3 linked regions of the Homo sapiens genome follow. The protein of the gene in region 2 purifies or fractionates together with the protein of the main gene of each other region. This does not show direct contact. Each region holds a gene or a part of one and is shown on either strand. Other genes may lie near its edges.

Region 1 (7,026 bases), on a different chromosome or scaffold from region 2:
GGAATTCCCATTTATAAAACCATCAGACCTTGTGAGACTTATTCACTACCAGAAGAAAAGCATGGGAAAGAACCGTGCCCATTATTCAATTACCTCCCCCCAGGTCCCTCCCATGACACATGAGAATTATGGGAGCTACAATTCAAGATGAGATTTAGGTGGGGACACAGCCAAACCATATTAATGACACTTCTGTGATCCTGTGGATTTGGGGAGTGATGGCGATGATTTCAAGAAGGAAACCCCCTCTCCTGCACATGGCTACATATTCTCCAGGGAACAACTATTGCAGTCTGAGAAGCACACAACAGGGATATCAGCAAAAGCTAGGAATGCCTTTCTAGCCCAGATATCTAGCACTGGGGAAAGCACAAGATATTGCTGGTGGTGAGGAGAACAATGAAGACAACTTGTTTTTTGGGTGGCCCACGGGTCATTAAAAGTATCACAGGACAGGATTTGTGTATGGACAACAATTCCCATATTTACAAATGAACAATGCTCTAAGAGTTGGGTTAATGTTGCTGTGTTTCTTCAATCAGTGCTTAGGCTCTATTGTGTCAGAGATTTAGCTGGTTATGAGAAAACAGTGACAATCCAAACCCAAACTTTTTCAAAGGGCTAACAGTTTTACGTTGACCCTGCATGCATATTATAAAAAATTAGCTCCATTTTTGAGCAATATCTCATAAAATGCACACTTATATTTCTTTCTATATTCATTCTCATTTCTAAAGGTATGTGTCTGGGTTATTTTTACCCTTGTAAGCCGTTTCAAATCTTTTCTGAAATAAACAAGATACACATAAAGGTGTAAAATGATGTCATGTTTATATTTCCATACTACCTCATAGAAACCTGAAGCATACGGCTACTAATAATACAATGATGTGCTTCATAATGACGTTTCAGTCAATGAAGTGGTGGTCCCATGAGATTACAATGGAGCTGAAAAACTTCCATTGCCTAGTGACCTCATAGCCATAGTATGTGGTAGCGCAGTGCATTACTCACATGTCTGGGGTGGTGGTGGTGTAAACAAACTTACTGTGCTGTCAGTTGTACACAATTCTAGCATATAAGTAATTACTGTATTATACTTTTTTTTCTTCAACTTTTATTCTAAGTCAGGGGTACATGTGCAGGATGTGCAGATTTGTTACACAAGTGAACGTGTGCCATGGTATCTTGCTGCACGGATCATCCCATCACCTAGGTATTAAGCCCAGCATCCATTAGCTATTCTTACTGATGCTCCCCCTCCCCCAAGCTCCACCAACAGGCCCCAGTGTGTGTTGCTTCCCCGACGCGTCCATTTGTTCTCATCATTCAGCTCCCGCTTATAAGTGAGAACATGCAGTATTTGCTTTTCCGTTTCTGTGTTAATTTGCTGAGGATAATGGCTTCCAACTCCATCCATGTCCCTGCAAAGGACATGATCTTGTTCCTTTTTATGGCTGCATAGTATTCCATTGTGTATATGTACCCCATTTTCTTTATCCACATTTTCAGTCTATCATTGATGGCATTTAGGTTGATTCCACGTCTTTGCTATTGTGAATAGTGCTGCAATGAACACAGGTATGCATGTATCTTTAGAATAGAATGATTTATATTCCTTGGGGTATATACACAGTAATGGGATTGGTGGGTTGATGGTATTTCTGGTTCTAGGTCTTTGAGGAATTGCCACGCTGTCTTCCACAATGGTTGAACTAATTTATACTCCCATCAACAGTGTAAAAGTGTTCCTTTTTCTCCACAACCTCGCCAGCATCTGTTGTTTTCTGACTTTTTATTAATAGCCATTCTGACTGGCATGAGATGGTGTCTTTTTGTGTTTTTGATGTGCATTTTTCTAATGATCAGTGATGTTGGGCTTTTTTTCCTATGTTTGTTGGCCACATGTATGTAATTACTATATTATACTTTTATCGTTATTTTAGAGTGTGCTCCCACTTACATAAAAGGTAACTGTGAAACTGCCTCAGGCAGGTCCTTCAGGAGGTATCCAGAAGAAAACATTGTTATTATAGGAGGTGACAGCTCCATGCATGTTACTGGCCCTGACAGCCTTCCAGTGGGACAAGATGTGGGAGTGAAAGAGGGTGATACTTATGATCCTAACCTTGTGTAGGCCTGGCTAATATCTGTGTTTGTGTTGTAATTTTTAACACAAAGTTTTTTTTTTAATAAAATAAATTTTAAAATAGAAAAAAGCATATCAAATAAGGACATAAAGAAAATATTTTTGTATAGCTGTGCAATTTGTGTTTTAAGCTGTCTTACTACAAAAGAGTCAAAAAGTTTAAAAAATCAAAATGTATATAAAGTTAAAAAGTTACAGGAAGCTAAAATTAATGTATTATTGAAGAAAGGAACATAGTTTTTATAAATTTAGTGTAGCCTAAGTGTACAATGTTTATAAAGCCTACAGAAGTGTATAGAAATGTCCTAGGCCTTCACATTCTGTCACCACTCACTCACTCACTCACCTACCCAGAGCAACTTCGAGTCCTGCAGGCTCCATTCATGGCAAGTACCCTATACATGCGTACCATTTTTTATATTTTATCCCATATTTTTACTGCACCTTTTCTATGTTTAGATACATAAATGCTTACCATTGTGTTACAGTTGCCTCCAGTATTTAGTGCAGTCACATGCAGTACAGGTTTGTACCCTGGGAGCAGTAGGCCATACTGTGTAGCCCTGTTGTGTAGTAGGCTGTACCATCCAGATTTGTGTAACTGCACTCTATGATGTTCGTGCAGTGATGAAATAGCCTAATGACACATTTCTCAGAACATAAGCCTATCATGAAGTGACGCACGACTGTGTTTTGACTATAAAGACAGTAACCATTTCTAACATTTTTTTCCGAAGAAAATAGTTTTTAAGCTCGGGCTTGGGCTGGAGAGCAAATGTCTTCCCTGAAGTCTCCTCTAGTGCATTGGGTCTCATAAGCCACAGATAATTTGTTGGCTATTTTTATTTGCTGATGACAAGTCACTTCTCTAGGCTCTTCAGCCCTCAAGTGTTGCAGATTTCACTTTCTGAGGTCATGGCTGCAAGACACATTTTCTTGACCAGCAGCTGTGGCCTGAGTTTTAGATTGACAGTGAAATGCATAGAAACACAGCAGGCTTCCCCCAACACCAAGATGTCTCAGCTTTAAGGAAGATACAGGACTGATGCCAATACTGCATGGCTGGTGACTCCTGGGCTCAGCCTCTGAATATCTCCCTGTCACTCCCCAGGAAGGGTGAGCAGGTGGTCACGGGAGGAGGCTGAGAGCATGGAGAGAAACTCAGCTAAGGGAGTCATTTGCTCTGGGGTCGCCTCAGCTTTTGTCTTTGCTCTCATCTCAGCCACTGCAGGGTATGTGGGCTGCGCCCGTGCCGGATCAGCTATGCGCATCAAAGCCCCTTACTCATGACTGCTCGGCAGTGGAGGCAGTGAAGCACAGGCACTCGGTCCATCCAGTCCTCAGTGTGTTCTTGTCCTATGTTCAGTATACCCCCATAATTCCTTGACTGAGTGCTGTGAGAGAAAATGCACCACACAAGAGTCAAGTCCTCCTGTGTCTCTGTGGGTAAACAAAAGTTCACAAACCAGCTCTTCAGCCGGAGCCATATCTTCCCCATGTTTGTATGCTAAGCACAGGGTCTGGCATATACTAGGTCCTTGGTCAAAATTTGCCCAGTGAATATACACTTTTGACCTCAATTTTTTTTTTTTTTTTTTGATGGTGGACGGGATCTCACCCAGGCTGTATGTAGTGCGGTGGCATGATCATGGCTCACTGAAGCTTTGAACTCCCAGGCTCAAGTGATCCTCTTACTTCAACCTCCCAAGTAGCTGGGACTACAGCTGTGCACTGCCATGTCTGGCTAATTTTTAAAATTTTTTTTCTAGAGACAGGGGTCTCACTATGTTGCCCAGGCCGGTCTCAAACTCCTGGGCTCAAAACGTACTCCATCCTCGGCCTCCCAAAGTGCTGGGATTACAGGGATGAGCCATCATGCTCGGTCTGACCTGTGAATTCTAATTATTTCATATGCAGGTTGTTTCATGTGCCTAGTGTTTATAAACGTTAAGTGATTGCCTAGCTAGTAATTTCTTTCTATTTTAAAAGTAATATCTATCAAAGGTGTTTGTGCTGTTAAAAGGCACGAGGATGGTAACATGAAGTCCCAAACTACTTCTTTCCATCTGTGTTTCAGATTATTTGAATATATTTTGCTGTATAAGGATGGAGTGATGTTTCAGATTGACCAAGCCACCAAGCAGTGCTCAAAGATGACCCTGACACAGCCCTGGGATCCTCTTGACATTCCTCAAAACTCCACCTTTGAAGACCAGTACTCCATCGGGGGGCCTCAGGAGCAGATCACCGTCCAGGAGTGGTCGGACAGAAAGTCAGCTAGATCCTGTAAGGGTTCAAAGAATCTAAGCATTGTATTCAGCATGCATGATGGGGAAAAAGGTTTAAGTCCTTTAAGGAAGGTAGTTTTTAGGGAAACATCCGCTTAATCAAAAATTTTTTAAAGCCTCCACTTAGGTCTGCAGGTTACTTTGCTCACTATGTGGCAACGGGATCTAAGCTTCATATTTGAAACACCTCAGCCTTCTAGTGCCACCTGCACCTCTCTGCCACTTTGGCTCCTGTGAACTTAGCCTTGATTTTGACATTTTATGGTCGTCCCGAGGTCTGTGACATGGAAGGCATCTGTCTAAGGCACACATTTGAATTGGGTGCCTCCTTTTCTTTCCCCCACTTCCTAAAGTTGCAGGGGTCAAATCTACTCCCATCATGCTGAGTGTGCAAACCAGCCTACTTTTATGTGAAGCCATTCTCTGCCCTGCTGCTGATATACGCCTATCCCAAGACAGTTTTTACCACACAGGCATTCATGCTGTGGAACACAGTATGGTGATTTCTCAAAAAATTAAAGATAAGACTGCCATATGACCCAGCAACTCCACTTCTGTATATATATATATGCCCCAAAGAATTGAACGCAGAGACTCAAACAGATATTTGTACACCCATGTCCACAGCAGCATTATTCACAATTGCCAAAAGGTGGAAACCCAAATGTTCATCAACAGATAAATGGATAAACAAAATCTGGTATAGTCATACAACAGAATATTATTCAGCCTTAAAAAGGAAGGAAACACCAGCACATGCTACAGCCTGAGTAAACCTTGAGGACATAATGTTAAGAGAAACAATGCAGGCAGAAAATGACAAATACAGTACAATCCCACTTACATGAGGTATGTAGAGTCGTCAAATTCATAGAGACAGAAAATCGAATGATGAGTTCCAGGAGCTGGGAGAGGAGGAATGGGAAGTTCGTGTTTAATGGAGACAGAGTTTCAGTTTGGGAAGATGAAAAAAGTTCTGGAGATGGATGGTGCTGATGGTCAACAAATGTGAATGTACTCAAGGCCACCAAACACTTAAAAATGGTAAAATGGTAAATTTTATGTTATGTACATTTTACCACCATAAGAAAAAATATGAACTTCTTGCCTGTCTTCTTTATTTAAAAGTCAACTTTTTTCCTCTTATAGATGAAACCTGGATTGGCATCTATACAGTCAAGGATTGCTATCCTGTCCAGGAAACCTTTACCATAAACTACAGTGTGATATTGTCTACGCGGTTTTTTGACATCCAGCTGGGTATTAAAGACCCCTCGGTGTTTACCCCTCCAAGCACGTGCCAGATGGCCCAACTGGAGAAGATGAGCGAAGACTGCTCCTGGTGAGCCTGTGCATAGGGAAGCGGCAGCATCGGATGTCAGCCCCCTGCGGCCCCAGCTGGAGATGGATATGAGACTAGTCAAGATGTGAATGCTAATTGGAGAGAAATATAATTTTAGGAAGATGCACATTGATGTGGGGTTTTGATGTGTCTGATTTTGACTACTCAAGCTCTGTTTACAGAAGAAAATTGAATGGCGAGGGTGTGGCCATATGAACTGACTAGATGGCTAATATGGACACTTTGGGTATTTCTAATGCCTGTTCAGGGCTGGTTTTCTGCATGCACGGGTATACACATAATGCAGTGCCATGCACATAGGGAAGGGTCAGTAAGAGAAGTTTGCCTTGGCAGCAAGTATTTATTGTTGACATTATTCAGAATTAGTGATAATAAAAAGCAGAGTGATTTTGGTCAATTTTATTATTAATTCTTAAATTCCCTGCAGAGAATGCCCCCTTTATTGCTGCACCAGGGTTGGCATTGCTCCCACTGAGCCCTACTCCACCCTGTCCCTGCACTCCCTTGGTTGCCAAAAAAATGATAACTTAAATCCCTTCCAGACTTAAGAATTTTATGGCATGGCCCAATTGATATAAACATTTAGAAGGAAATGAAAAGCTAAAATAGGAAGTAATTATTCCTCTAAAGAAACATTTTGAGCAAGGCAGTTTAGAGAATCCTAATGTCTACACTGGCATAGCACGAGCCATGTAAGCTTCTTTTTTTTCTATGCAAGAGTATTGATGTATGTGCTGAATCTTCACAGACTTGTCAATACACAGGCAGTATTCTAAAATAGCACTGAACAGGGAGTCAGGAGACTATTGTCTCCTAAACCCAGGACTAGAGTTCCCTCGTACTGTCACTCCTTTGGTCATTAAATGCACTGGGCTTGCCCGCACTTTGGCCTTCCTAGAACACTGCTTCATAACCTCTCTGTCTGACTTCTGCATCTCCTTCCAGGTCAGCTCATTCACAAGAGTTGCTCCCAAGCCTGGATGAGTTGCACCTTGCATCTTGAGCATGCATTTCTCACAATAATTATTAAGCTGTGTGATAATTTCTGCTTTCAGGACACTCATCCATTATCTTGGCTGTGAGCTCCTTGGGTACGGGTACCTTGTATGTTTACTTTTATATCCCTAGCACAAAGCAAGTGCCTGGCACATAGTCAGTGCCCTAAGTATTCGTAGAGTGAAGAATGCCAGCCTCTCTTGTCCCTGGTTTCCTTATGTGTTGAATGT
Region 2 (7,026 bases):
AAATGTACACAGTAGAGGGCATATTTTGGCTTACAAAGCACTAGGTGCTAGAACTTGTACTCATCAGAATGACTCTTGGTATATTTCTTCATAAGGCACTCACAGAATTCAATCACCCAATTATGTGTTCGTACCTTATATTTGTGTTGTTGATACATGGAGGTATGATGCTTTTAAGTAGAAGGATTCTTCTTTATATTTAAACTGTGCTTTTAAAAATATAATTTTTCTCATTAAAATAAAATAATTAGTAGCCAACAATCAACATTAATGTCCAATAGTTAAAATAAATAAGTTATAAACTAGGATATGTTATTTGAATACCTACTATTAAGTTTCTGCATAGGATTTTTATTAAATAAATTTGAACAGTTTTTTAATCTCATAACGATGTAATATTTAGAGAAAAAATCAAGTTCTTTGATTAATGTATTTAACTCACAACAGTTCTTAGCATATAGCACTTGATGGCCATTTGCTGAGTGAATATGAACGAATGTGCAGAGGAAAATGTTTTGTGATCCTTTCATCCTCAACCTGATCATTCCCACCCTAGATCCCTACCTCTAGGTAGTGTATATGTGTACACACACACACATACACATACGCTGAGTATGATTATCTACTCACTCATTTTCATATATTTAACACATACATGCACACTATCCCTTTTAACTACATTGTTGTACTTACTATCGATTCTGAACTTACTACTTATCAAACATCTTCAAAGAAAATTTTATTTCATGAGGCTAGGGGTAAGATTTCTTTCTGCTATGATTTGTTTGATAAATTGTTGAATGCAAGCAGTAGAAATACAAGAATCAGACTAAAATTTATAATATTTTGCACATTAATTGAGGCTTTTTTCTCTACTGAACTGTGTTCTCCTCATGAGTCAGGATCATATTTGACTTATTTACCAATGTATCTCAAGGGTAAAGTATTTTGATTGGTACATAGTGAGAATATAAACAATACTCATTGAATGAGCAAATGAATAATTTTAGTCTATGCATTCAGGAAAAACTAATCAAGTAATTAAAATAATTTTATTTTTTATAAAACATACTAGTGGTTTAATTAAAATATGAAACTTTAAGTACTGTTGTACTGTTTTGTGAAGAATTGTGAAAGGTCTGAGATATTATCCCACAGATATAGATGATATAGATATTGGTATAGATATAGACCTAACTAGAGATACAACACCTGGGTCAGAAGTAAGGAGTTCTTAACAGATACTCATAAATAGATCGACAACCAGAGTAACATAGCAGCATGCATCTCCCACACCTTAGTCTTACAGTGATGTGATAAGAACCAATAAAATTTGTCTACACAGGTAGCAGTGTATGTCTCATAAATGATGGACAAAGAACAATAGATTTTCTCCATTTGTTTACAGGAGAGAGACAAGCAGATTCCTCCTTTCCCAAAAGGAAGGAAAAATCTTTCATTCCATTATGATGAGTTGAAGAGGAACCTATCTTCTCACCATAAACATTAGGAATATAAACATATCTTTCCAAGGTCCAGCTAGACAGCAAATAAAGTCTCCAGATGATGGGCTGCATTTCTTTTGAGATGTAAATACCAAAGGATATAATGTCCCCACACTTCTGACACCTTAAAGCTTAATTTAGGACCTTGTCTCTGCTCTCTTTGAGCCTCTAGAGGAGATAAGAGAAGTTTTGTTATCCCTTCAGATCAGATCATTAAACTAGATGAATGGCTACATATCTAATTGTCAAGGTATGCGAAGAGTAGAATATTTTTGGGAGAAGTGAAAGAAAACATTCCCTATCTTTATATTATATACAATGTTTTGTGGGTCAGGAAAGCAAAAACTTTATTCAAGAGCACTGAGAAATCTAGGAAAGTTTTATTTCTGCACAATTATATATGGATGTTTCAAAGCATTTACAAATAGTCCTATGATATAAACCTATTTTTATAATAAAAATATTGAAAGTCTTTCACTACTGAGTAAAATGTAATACATAGCAGCAAGCCATAAATTCTACTAAATAAGTAGAAAATAGCAGAATTTTTCCAAAATTGTGTTTTTAAAAAAATGAGAGTGCTAAATCTGGAGAAAAATTTTTGGCCTAGGAGCATTTGGTAGGTTTGGGCATAAAGTGAGGACTGGGTTTGTAATAGGCATGCTATGGTTTGTTTGAGTTAAATTATGAGACAAGTGAAGCAGAAAGATGTGACCAGCAACCAAGGGAAAAATACTATCAATAGAAGCAATAGATGATACTTTAGATGTAGGCTTTAAAATAACCATTATTTTAAAAAATTAAGAAAAATCTAGATGAAAAGATGGAGAATTTCAATCTATAATTAGTTCAACCATTGTGGAAGAGTGTGGCAATTCCTCAAGAATCTAGAACCAGAAATACCATTTGACCCAGCAATCTCATTACTGGGTATATACCCAAAAGATTATAAATCATTCCATTATAAAGACACATGCACACACATGTTTATTGCAGCACTGTTCACAATAGCAAAAACTTGGAACCAACCCATATCCCCATCAATGATAGACTGGATAAAGAAAATGTGGCACATATACACCATAGAATACTACGCATCAATAAAAAAGGATGAGTTTATGTACTTTGCAGGGACATGGATGAAGCTGGAAACCATCATTCTCAGCAAACTAACACAGGAACAGAAAACCAAACACTACATGTTCTCACTCGTAAGTGAGAGTTGAACAATGAGAACACATGGACACAGGGAGGGGAACATCACACACTGGGGCCTGTTCACGGGTGGGGGGCTAGGAGAGGGATAGCATTAGGAGAAATACCTAATGTAGATGATGAGTTGATGGGTGCAGAAAACCACCGTGGCATGTGTATACCTATGTAACAAACCTGCATGTTCTGCACATGTACCCCAGAACTTAAATTATAATAAAAAATGAGTTCCTGAATTCATGAATGCAAACATTGCAAGAAAATCACACTCAAACTTTTCACGATCAAACAGCTGAAGATAAAAAATAGAAATTTAAAAAGTCACTATTTAAAATGACACATTATTCTCAAAAAAAGCAGCACTGACTGACAGCTGGCATTTCAACAACAACAATAAAAAAGGAAAGTAGAAGACTGCAAAATGACATTGCTAAAATGCTGGATAAAATAATAATATTGATAATGATGAAGATAACGTGCCAACATGGAATTTTATACATGGTGACATTTTTCTCCAAAATAAATACAAAATTAAAGCACGTTTGGACAAAAGCTGAAATAACACAATTCCAAAAAAACATACACCAAAAGTTACAGAAAAAAAGTAGGCAAATATTTAAACATATCTCAGTATCTCATAGAAATAGCAGCTAAAAATAAGTAAATGTATGAAAGATTGAAAAAAACTATTAGCCAGCTTTATGTCATTGAAATTCATAGGATATTACACATAAATATTGATGAATATACATTCTCTTTAAGTGCACATGAAATATTTGCCAATATTGACCACATGCTGGTCCATAGGGCATGTTCAATAAATTTAAAAAATTGAAATTGTACAGAATATACCATGATGAAACTTTTGTTATTTAGCTAAAGCACTACTGAATGTAATAGAAAATGCATGCATTGGAAAAGAAGAAAGGTTAAAATTGATTCATGTATTTTTAAAAGGTTGAAAAGAATAATTCAATAAGCTGAAAAATTTAAACCGAAGATAAATGAAAGAAATAATAAACAGAAAAGCAAAAAAAAGTAAAAGAAAACAGACATATTATAATAGATGAAAATCAAAAAAGCAAAGAGTTGATGCTTTGCAAAAAATGATTAAATGTCTAGGAAGACTGAAAAAGAAACAAGGAGAGACAAATTGCCATAGAAATGAAAAAAGAGAACATTGCTGCAGATTCAATAGATATGAAGTAGGTAATAAGAGGATATTATTAAAAAGTTATGCCAGTATAATTGAAAATATAGATGAAATGGATAAATTTATCAGAAAACAAAACTTATCAAAAACCTACACAGGATGAAAATAGCATAAATAGTTATGGAACAATTTGAAAAAAAAAATGAGTCTATTTAAATTACTTTCACAGAGGAATTCAGGCTCAAAAGACTTCACTGGTGAATTTTCCAAACATTTAAGGAATAAATGAAACGAATTTTACAACAAATCCTTTCAGGGAATAGGAAATAAGGAACAGTTACTTCCAAACTCATTTTATGAAGCGGTAACACCAATACCAAAACTTGATAAGACAATACAAAAAAGAAAAAATATAGGCCGATATCTCTCATGAGCATAAAATTCCAAACAAAATATTACAATTAAGAAATATATAAAGGGATAACACTCCATAAGTGAAACTTATGTTAGGAATGCAAGGTTGGTTTCAAGTACTAAAATCAATCAATATAGTTCATCAAATTATAAGAGTCAAGGAGAAAAAAAAACATGATTTTTTTTTTTTTTTTTTTTTTTTTCAGACGGAGTCTCACTCACTCTGTCGTCCAGGCTGGAGTGCAGTGTCGTGATCTTGGCTAACTGCATCCTCTACCTCCCAGGTTCAAGCAGTTCTCCCTACCTCAGTCTCCCGAGTAGCTGGGAATACAGACACCCGCCACCACACCTGGCTAATATTCGTATTTTTGGTAGAGACGGGTTTCGCCATGTCGCCCAGGCTGGTCTCAAACTCCTGACTTCAGGTGATCTGCCCACCTTGGCCTCCCAAAGTGCTGGAATTACAGGCGTGAGCCAGTGAACCCGGCTTGAATATCTTAATTGGTGCAGAAAATGCATTAATAAAATTCAGCACTTACTGTTCTACTGTTGTGTAACAAACTATCACAGATTTAGCAGATTGAAACAACATACATTTATTATCGCAGTGTTTCTGTGGGTCAGAAATCCAGTGTACCGAGCTGGATCCTCTGCTCATGATCTCACAAGGATGCCATCAAAGTGTTGTCTGAGTTGTGTTCCTTTCTGGAGCTTACAGCCCTCTTCCAAGCTCACGTGGTTGTTGGTAGACGTGTTTTTTTGGTTGTGGGTCCAAGCCCCCATTTTCTTGCTGACTGAGGATATTCTCAGATCTTAGAGGATGCCTGAAGTTCCTTCCATGTGGCTCCCTCACACAGAGTTTTACAGATCCTCTCTCAACAGAGTACCTTACATCTTCAAGACCATTAGGAAAAACAAAATTTCTGACTTCTAAATCCTCTTTTAAGGGGCTTCTTGAGCCACATTTGGTCCACGAGCCATGGTTTGCCAATACATAGGTCACAGAAACTTTATATACATATGAAAAAAAAAAACCTAGATCACTTCCTCACTAAATACAGACAAAAACAATTTGAGATGGAGCAGAGACCATGTAATTGCAAAATAATAAAGTTTCTCGAAGAAAACATAGGCAAATATGTTTGTGATATCTATTAGAAAATGCTTTCTTAAATCGGGCACAAAATAAACTTTTTAAGAATAAATTATCAGACTACATTAAAATAAGAACAACTATTTAAAAGACAGTATTATAAGAAAAAGTAAGCCACAGAATGAGAAAAATGTATCTATCTATCTATCTGGAAAGGTATCTGACAAGTCCTCACATATACAATAAATAGACATTCTTACAAATATATAGGAAGACCAAGATAACTCAATAAAATAGAACTCTTAAACAGAAACTTCAAGAAAAGGGGAAATCCAAATGGCCTAAATAGCCATGTGAAAAGATGGTCAATGTTACTAATTATCAAGGAAATGCAAATTAAGACCACAATGAAATATCACTTCATATACACTAGATTAGCTAAAATTAAAAGGATTGATAATATCCAGCATAGATGAGGATTTGGAGTAAATAGAATCTTATACTACTGATGCATGTGTAAATGGAGCCGCTACTTATGTTCATCATGTTTATCACCAGGAGAATGGATAAACTGTGGTATAGTCACACAATGAAAATAAATAGTAATAAGATGAATTAATTGCTTACATATGCCAAACATAGATGAATCCCAGAAACATTATTTTGAGCTAAAAAAAAGTCAACCTCAATATATTTTGCATTATTCCATTTTTGTAAAGATCAATTATAGGAAAACCTGATGGGGAGTGGAGGGTGGATGGACAGGAAGGCAACATGGTAGACCTTCTGGGGTGCTATAAGTGGTTAATAGCTTAATCTAAGTGGAGATTACATGAACATAAACTTCATAAACACATGTATAAATTTACTAAGTTGTATACTTAAGATTAATACACTTTATCTATGTGACTGTATCATATATCTCAATACAAAAGATGAAAAGTTAAATCTTTAGAAATTTTCTCCCCTTCATTGCCACCATTTCCTTTATAATTAAATACAAACAAATGTAGGCATTTGGAAGAAACAAACAAAATAAATGCTGAAATAGAAGAAATGAGAGTAGGAAGAATAAGATTAATAAACAAAATACATGTCCTGAGGTGTATTTTATTAGCACTAATTTTTACAGTGTCTTACTCTTTATAATTATGTGGCCTTTCTTGCAAACATATGATTAGCTCTCATTAGCACATAAATGCACATTTGCTTATACAATCTTTATATACCTTTCCCATATTTACCAAGAATGTAATTATGAAATTTTGGATAGTAATAATCTTCAGCCATCCAAATGAGAATAGGCTCAGTGTTATATATCATATTTGCAAGAATTTACAAATATTACTATTCCTAGCCATTTGTTAGGTTGTGACTAATTTTATTTGATATATAGATACAGATATATGAACTGACTAAAAAAATATGAAAATTGACATTTAGTGTATTTCACTGGTGCTAGAACTCTCACACACATTGACGCTGTTTCCTTCTCAGCTATTCAAAGTCCATTTCATCTTTGAAATGATAAATTGAACTTACAATTTTAAACATAGTTTTGAGAGTGCTCCTTTAAAGTATCAGGGTTGATTAAGGAGGCAAACAGCCAAATCTTAAAAAGAAATGCTGATAAAAATTGGCTATTTCTT
Region 3 (6,826 bases), on a different chromosome or scaffold from region 2:
GGGACGGGTGGGTAGACAGAGGAGGTGGCTCCTTCAACTTCCCTCCTCCATTCTGCAAACCGGGGAGCTCAGGCGGAGCGGCGGAGGGCAGGGCGGCGAAGGTCAGGAGGCCAGGCCCCCCAGCCCGCGCAGGTGAGCCTTGCTGTCTACCTCTTCCTCCTCCATCTCGAAGGCTGAGTGGTCTTGGCTGTCGAAACAGGAGGCGCTGAGGAAGACAGGGGGAGCCGGCGGGGACTGGGGTGGGGTCCCCGGAGAGGGCGGCTCTTCCTTAATGTTTGCGAGGGGCAGCGGGAGCCCTTCTTCCTCCTGCTCGGCCTTCAGGGGCGGCGGGGGCGGTGGCGGCGACGTCGGGGCCTGGGCCTGCAGTGCCTGCAGCGCGGCGGCCCTCTCCAGCTCTGCGCGGTGGCAGCGCTGGTGGCGCAGGAGGCTGTAGGCGCGCGAGAAGCGGCGCGGGCAGCGGGGGCACGGGTGCGGGGCTGGGCCCCCCGCGTGCACCTGTGCGTGGCGCGCCAGGTCGGCCAGGCGCTTGAACTCCCGCTGGCAGCGCACGCACTGGAAGGGGCGCGCTCCCGAGTGGGTCACCCCGTGCTGCCGCAGGTGCGCCCGGCGCCTGAAACCTTTGCCGCACTCTGGGCACCAGAAGCGGGGCTCCCCGGCGGGGGGCCGAGCCGGGGCGGCGTCGCCTCCGTTCTGCCCTTCTCCCCCTTCCGAGGCACCCCCGCACTCCGCCCCCTCGCCCCCCTCCGGCCCCTTGGCTGAGTTCCGTGCACCCGAGGCCTTGTCGTCCTTCTTGCCCGCCGCGGGCAGCGGGGCCAGCAGGCTGAGGGGGCCGTGGACGCGGCGGTGCTGGCGGAGGTAGGAGGCGAGGCGGAAGGCCAGGCCGCAGTCTGGGCACACGAAAGGGCGGTCGGTGGAGTGGACCAGCCGGTGGCGCGACAGGGACCAGGGCCTGGCGAAGGCCTTGAGGCAGATGGAGCACTGGTGTCGCTTGGGGCGTGGCGGGGGCCCCCCTTCCCCTTCCTGTTCGCCCTCGGGGCGCAGACACGGGTGCGCCTTGAGCTCGCCCTTGGTGGCGAAGGCTTCGCGGCAGCGCAGACACAGCAGCGTCCAGTCTGCCTGGAGCAGGACCTGTTTCTCCTCCTGCCGCCCGGCCGCCAGCGCCAGCTCGGCCCTCAGCTCTGCTGCCCCGGCCTCGGCCTCCTCCGACTCCGACTCCCGGGGCTCCGCGGCGCTGGTGGGCGCAGCCAGCGTGGAAGGCTCCCCCGCAGGCCACGTCTCAGGCCACGCTGCGACCGCCTCCTCCTCCGTGGCCCCTGCTGCAGCGGTGGTGGGCGGCTCCGAGCCCTCGTCCTGCGGGCCCCAGCTGGGTTCGGCCGTCTCCTTGGCCACCCTCTCGATGGCCAGCTCGACCTCGCCGCCCGCGTGCTCCTGAGCCAGGTGGCGCCTGAGCTGGGCCGGTTCTGGGAAGGTGCGGGGGCAGGCGGCGCAGCGCAGCGGGGGCTGGGGCCCGTGGCCGCGCAGGTGGCGGGAAAGGTGGGCCGGCCGGCGGAAGGCCTTGGGGCACAGCGGGCAGGCGTGGGGCCGGAGCCCCGAGTGGCTCAGCCGGTGCCGGGAGAGGTAGTAGGGGAAACGGAAGAGGCGGCCGCAGGTGGGGCAGGGCAGGGGCGCCCTAGGGGCTCCAGCGCCCCCCCTGCCACGGCCACGGCCCCGACCACGGCCTCGGCCACGGCCCCGGCCTCGGCCACGGTGAGGTGGGCTGCCCTGGGCGGGTGGAGGAGGCTGCGGATCCATGCCTGTGGGGAGAGAGGGGAGAGATGGGAAGCGGGGCAGAGATAAAAAGAGGTGCGTGGGGTGTGGCAGAAAGAGAAGCAGAGACAGTCAGAGATGGAGAGGCAGAGAGGGTCAGGTATTTAGCCAGGAGAGAGATATGAGACAGAGACAAAGATGAGAGACACCGAGGGGAGGCCAGAGATGGAGAGACAGGAGGAGAGAGATCAGAGACAGAGCGACAGAGCAGGGAATAGAGACAGGAGAAGGCAGAGATGGGAGACACAGAGAAGTGGGGATGGACAGACAGAGACCAGGAGTCGCAGAAAGACAGGATGGTGAAAGGCAGAGCAGAGAAGAGACAGAGGAGAGTGAGGAACACCCAGCAGAGAGACAGAGACACAGAGAAGAGGAAACAAAGAGACTTGGAGAACCAGAGGCAGAGATAGTGCAAGAGCAGAGATCAGAAGAGCAGTGGCGGGTTGGGGGCCGGAGAGACAGGGAGACAGAGACACAGAGGGAGTGAACTGGGCAGAGGCACGGAGGGGGACAAAGTCAGCGAACCGCTTCTGCTCCAGGTCCCCCGGCCAGGCTGAACGTTTTGGGAGGGGCTGGGACACAGCCCATGGGGCCTGAGTGGAGGGGGTGGGATTTGAAGCCGGTAGGCCCCGGAAATAGAGTGTGTTCTCAGATGCCAGGGGCTGGGAGAGGTCGGGGAGTAGGAGGGTTCAGACTTCTGGTCTGAGTTGGGAGGGGGCTAGGGGCCCAGACTCTTGGGACTGATGGGGATGGGAGCTGGGGATTGAGACTCCTGGGTCCAGGTCATGACGGATTGGGGAATCTGGACTCTGGTATGGAGGAGGTGTGGATTCCTGGGTCCCGGTGGAGGAGGGGCTGGGGAGGGGGCTGGGCTCCCAGGACAAGGGGGAGGCGGGGGCTGGGGACCCAGCTGCCGGGAATCCCCAGGGAGGAGGCGACTGAGGGCCGGACCCCTGGACTCGGGAGGGAGGCTGGTGGGGGTCGGGGGTCCCAGGTCCTAGAGGGGGGCCGATCTCCTCCGGGCCAAGCCTGCAGCTCCCCGAAGGCATGATCAGCAGAATTGGGGCCGGGTCGAGGCCTTGAGGATTTCTCAGCCCTGGGCCTGGGGCTTGGTCCTGGTCGCTGGGGCTGGGTTCTTACCTCGCCTCCTTGGCTCCTTTCTTCCTTCCCCACGGCCGGCCAAACGCGGACGGTGGTGGCGGGGAGGGAGGGGGGCCTGAGCGTGGTGGGGGGTGGAGGAGGAGGCTGGGCTCGGTGTCACTGCCTAAGCCTTCCCCCCGGAAACCTGGCCTTTCCTCGGAGCCTGAAAGAGGAAAGACTGGCTGGGAAGCCGGAAGCGGGAGGACGGGGGACCTGGAGAGGGGAGGGAAGGCAGCTTGCACTACAGGGTCCTGTGAGGGGAGGGGGCTGGGGGCCTGTCCCCCGGGCTCCCAGAGGGCGGAGGGTGCTGAGGGCCTGGAACACTGGGTCCAGCTACTCCCGGCTCCCCAACATGCACACACACATATTCATTCATTCCTTCAACAAATACACATTTATCAGGTCCTGTCTGTGCCAGGCACTGTGTCAGGCCAGGGGAGTGGCCGGGGGAGGAAGATGAATGAATCAGTGACAGAGGCTTCAGGAAGTACTGGCACTCTGGATCAGAACCTGGCTCCAGCCTTCCCTTGGCTGTCTGGGTGAAGGATTCTCCCACTTCGAGCCTCGGTTTCCCCCTTTGTGAAAGCCCCTGCATATACTCATTCAACCCTAAGCGACCAATATTTACTGAATATCTACTACGGGCCAGCCTGCATATATTTGTCTACATATACGCATATTCACTGGGACCTTAGCAGCCAATGTTTACTGAGCACCTACTATGGGCTGGTGCTGTCCTTGGTGCTGGAGTCACAGTGGCAAAAACCGGAGCTCACTGTCTGATGGGGAAGGCAGATAGATACGGATCAATCACGCTGGAGTGCATGTGGGGGAACGTGTGCTCCGAGGCAGGGAACTGCTATGGGAATGCAGAGAACAGAAGGCACTGAGCTGAGCTCACACTGGGAGGAGGTGATTCCTGAGGTCTTCCTGGAGGCAGCAATGTTTCAGCTGAAATTGGCAGAATGAAACCAACCTGGCGACATCTCAGAAACCTATTCTGGAGCAGAAAAGGCATTTTGCAGGAGTATACCCACAGCTTGACGCTGTTTGTTTAAGGTTACATTCCTGCCAAACAGTGCTAATGAGAGTGCGAGCAAACAGGTCCTTTCATACACGGCTGGGGCAAGTAGAACCTGGAACATTCTTACCGAGCCAGCAATTCCAGGAATTTATTCTTCAGAGGCATCTACTCGGAACTGCACAAAATAATGTCTGCACCAGGTTAATCATTGCAGTACTGCACATCACTGCAAACAGCTGAAACCAATCTAAACACCCATCTGTAGGAGAGCTGAGTAATAAATCATGACTGATCCACCCAGTGGAATACTAGGTGTCCATAGAAAAGAACAAAGAAGCTCACCGTGTGCATATATGGTAAGTCTCCAAGTGATAACCTGTAGAAGAGAAAAATGGAAGGTCAAGTACAGCCTGCAGCCTGTTCTGGGTTTGTGTGTGTTCTGGGATTGTGTCCAGATGAACTGGAACAAGAGAGAAGAAACTGAAACTGGCAACATAGTCTAACTTCCAGGACAGAAATTTACTACACTCTATCCTTGTTTTTTTGTTTGTTTGTTTTTTTTTGTTTTGTTTTGTTTTCTTTTGAGATGAGATCTCCTTCTGTTGCCCAGGCTGGCTGGAGGAAGTGCAGTGGTGTGATCTCGGCTCACTGCAGCCTCGACCTCCCGGGCTCAAGCAATCCTCCCACCTCAGCCTCCTGAGTAGGTGGGGCTACAGGAGTGTGCCACCATGTCTGGCTAATTTTTGTATGTTTTGTAGAGATGGGGTCTCCCTATGTTGCCCAGGCTGGGCTTGAACTCCTGGGCTCAAGCAATCCACCTGCCTCGGCCTCCCAAAGTGCTGGAATTACAGACATTAGCCACTGTGCCCGGCTTTTTGTACTTTTTGAATTCAAAACCGTGTGAATGTGCTATATACTCAAAAAAGTAAAGGAGGCCAAGCATGGTGGCTCACGCCTGTAATCTCAGCACTTTGGGAGGCCCAGGTGGGCAGATCACCTGAGGCCAGGAGTTCAAGACCAGCCTGGCCCACATGGTGAAACCCCATCTCTACAAAAGGTACAAAAATTAGCCAGGCATAATGGCACATGCCTATAATCCCAGCTACTCAGGAGGCTGAGGCAGGAGAATGGCTTGAACCTGGGAGGCAGAGGTTGCAGTGCGCTGAGATCGTGCCATTGCACTCCAGCCTGGGCAACAGAGCAAAACTCCACCTCAAAAAAAAAAAAAAAAAAAAAAAGAAAAGAAAAAAGTAAAGGAAAAAGAAATACATGGGGATTATAAAAATAAATGAAATGAAAAATAATAGCTTACTCTTGTGAGCGTATTACAAATATGATCCCATTTACTCCTTGCTTTATGAAGTAGGTACCATTATTTTTCCCTTTTACAGAGGATGAAAGTGAGATACTAGAAGTTTCCAAACCTAGCGAGTCTCAGTAAGAAGTTTCACTTCACAAACAGATAGGAGAAATGATAGTGGATCAGAAGCATGATTTAAAAGAAATAATAAAAGGCCGGGCGTGGTGGCTCATGCCTGTAATCCCAGCACTTTGGGAGGCCGAGGGAGGCAGATCACTTGAGGTCAGGAGTTCAAGACCAGCCTGGCCAACACGGTGAAACCGTCTCTACTAAAAATACAAAAATTAGCTGGGCATGGTGGTGCGCGCCTGCAATCCCAGCTAGTCCGGAGGCTGAGGCAGGAGAATCGCTTGATCCTGGGAGGCGGAAGTTGCAGTGAGCCGAGATCGTGCCACTGTACTCCAGCCTGCGACAGGGCAAGACTCCGTCTCAAATAAATAAATAAATAAATAAATAAATAAATAAATAAATAAATAAAATAGGAATGGGGTCTCACTCTGTTGCCCAAGCTAGTCTTGAATTCCTGAGCTCAAGCAATCCTTCCACCTCAGCCTCCGAAAGTGCTGGGATTACAGGCATTAACTACCGTGCCCAGACTAGGAGCATGCTTTTTAAAAGCACCTTGTCCATAATACTATATTTTAAAGAATATATACCATGGAATAAAAGTCTAAAAATGTCTGTGGTAATAATAGGCACCAAATTCAAGATATAAGTTATGTTTGAGATAGGAGAGGCAATCAGATCTTGGAGGGGGTGGTCCGCGGGGAGTCATTTGTATCCCTAATATTTCAAAGCTGGTAGTCAGAATATGGGTGTGTGTATTTTAACATGTTTTTTGTAAAATACACTTAAACTTTATAATTGTAACCATTTTAAATCACACAGCTCAATGGCACTAAGTAAATGTTGCACAACTATCCACGCTGTCTAGTTCCAGAACTCTTTTTTTTTTTTTTTTTTTGAGACAGAGTTACACTCTTGTTGCCTAAGCTGGAGTGCAATGGCGTGATCTCGGCTCACCGCAATCTCCGCCTCCTGGGTTCAAGCGATTCTCCTGCCTCAGTCTCCCAAATAGTTGGGATTACAGGCATGTGCCACCATGCCCAGCTTATTTTGTATTTTTAGTAGAGACAGGGTTTCTCCATGTTGGTCAGGCTGGTCTCAAACTCCCGACCTCAGGTGATCCACCTGCCTTGGCCTCCCAAAGTGCTGGGATTACAGGCGTGAGTCTCTTTCTTTCTTTCTTTCTTTCTTTTTGTAGATATGGGGTTTTGCTTTGTTCCCTAGCCTCATCTGAACTCCTGGTCTCAAGCCATCCTCCCACCTGAGCCTCCTAAAGTGCTAGGATTACAGGCGTATGCCACCATGTCCAGCCTAGTTCCAGAACCTTTTCATCAGCCCAAACAAACCCTAAGCCCATTAGCAGTCATTCCCACACTCCCTTCTATCCCCAGCCCCTGTCAACTAATAATCAGTTTTCTGTCTCTATGAAT

What was found. The genes of interacting proteins can lie anywhere in the genome.
Region 1: the proteins of TINAG (region 2) and EPDR1 purify together in Homo sapiens (affinity purification with mass spectrometry; 2 studies listed by BioGRID and IntAct, with this or other methods). This does not show direct contact.
Region 3: the proteins of TINAG (region 2) and ZNF579 purify together in Homo sapiens (affinity purification with mass spectrometry; 2 studies listed by BioGRID and IntAct, with this or other methods). This does not show direct contact.

What each region holds. Positions count from the first base shown.
Region 1 is NC_000007.14:37,944,614-37,951,639, forward strand, and holds part of EPDR1 (mammalian ependymin-related protein 1 isoform 1 precursor), read left to right. Parts: intron 1-4,226; coding exon 4,227-4,435; intron 4,436-5,586; coding exon 5,587-5,783; 3' UTR 5,784-7,026. UniProt on the Homo sapiens protein: Binds anionic lipids and gangliosides at acidic pH.
Region 2 is NC_000006.12:54,381,418-54,388,443, forward strand, and holds part of TINAG (tubulointerstitial nephritis antigen), read left to right. Parts: intron 1-4,490; coding exon of another isoform or gene 4,491-4,538; exon of another isoform or gene 4,539-4,709; intron 4,710-7,026. UniProt on the Homo sapiens protein: Mediates adhesion of proximal tubule epithelial cells via integrins alpha3-beta1 and alphaV-beta3. This is a non catalytic peptidase C1 family protein.
Region 3 is NC_000019.10:55,577,849-55,584,674, forward strand, and holds the start of ZNF579 (zinc finger protein 579), read right to left. Parts: upstream 3,001-6,826; 5' UTR 2,947-3,000; intron 2,295-2,946; exon of another isoform or gene 1,794-2,294; 5' UTR 1,792-1,793; coding exon 103-1,791; 3' UTR 1-102. UniProt on the Homo sapiens protein: May be involved in transcriptional regulation.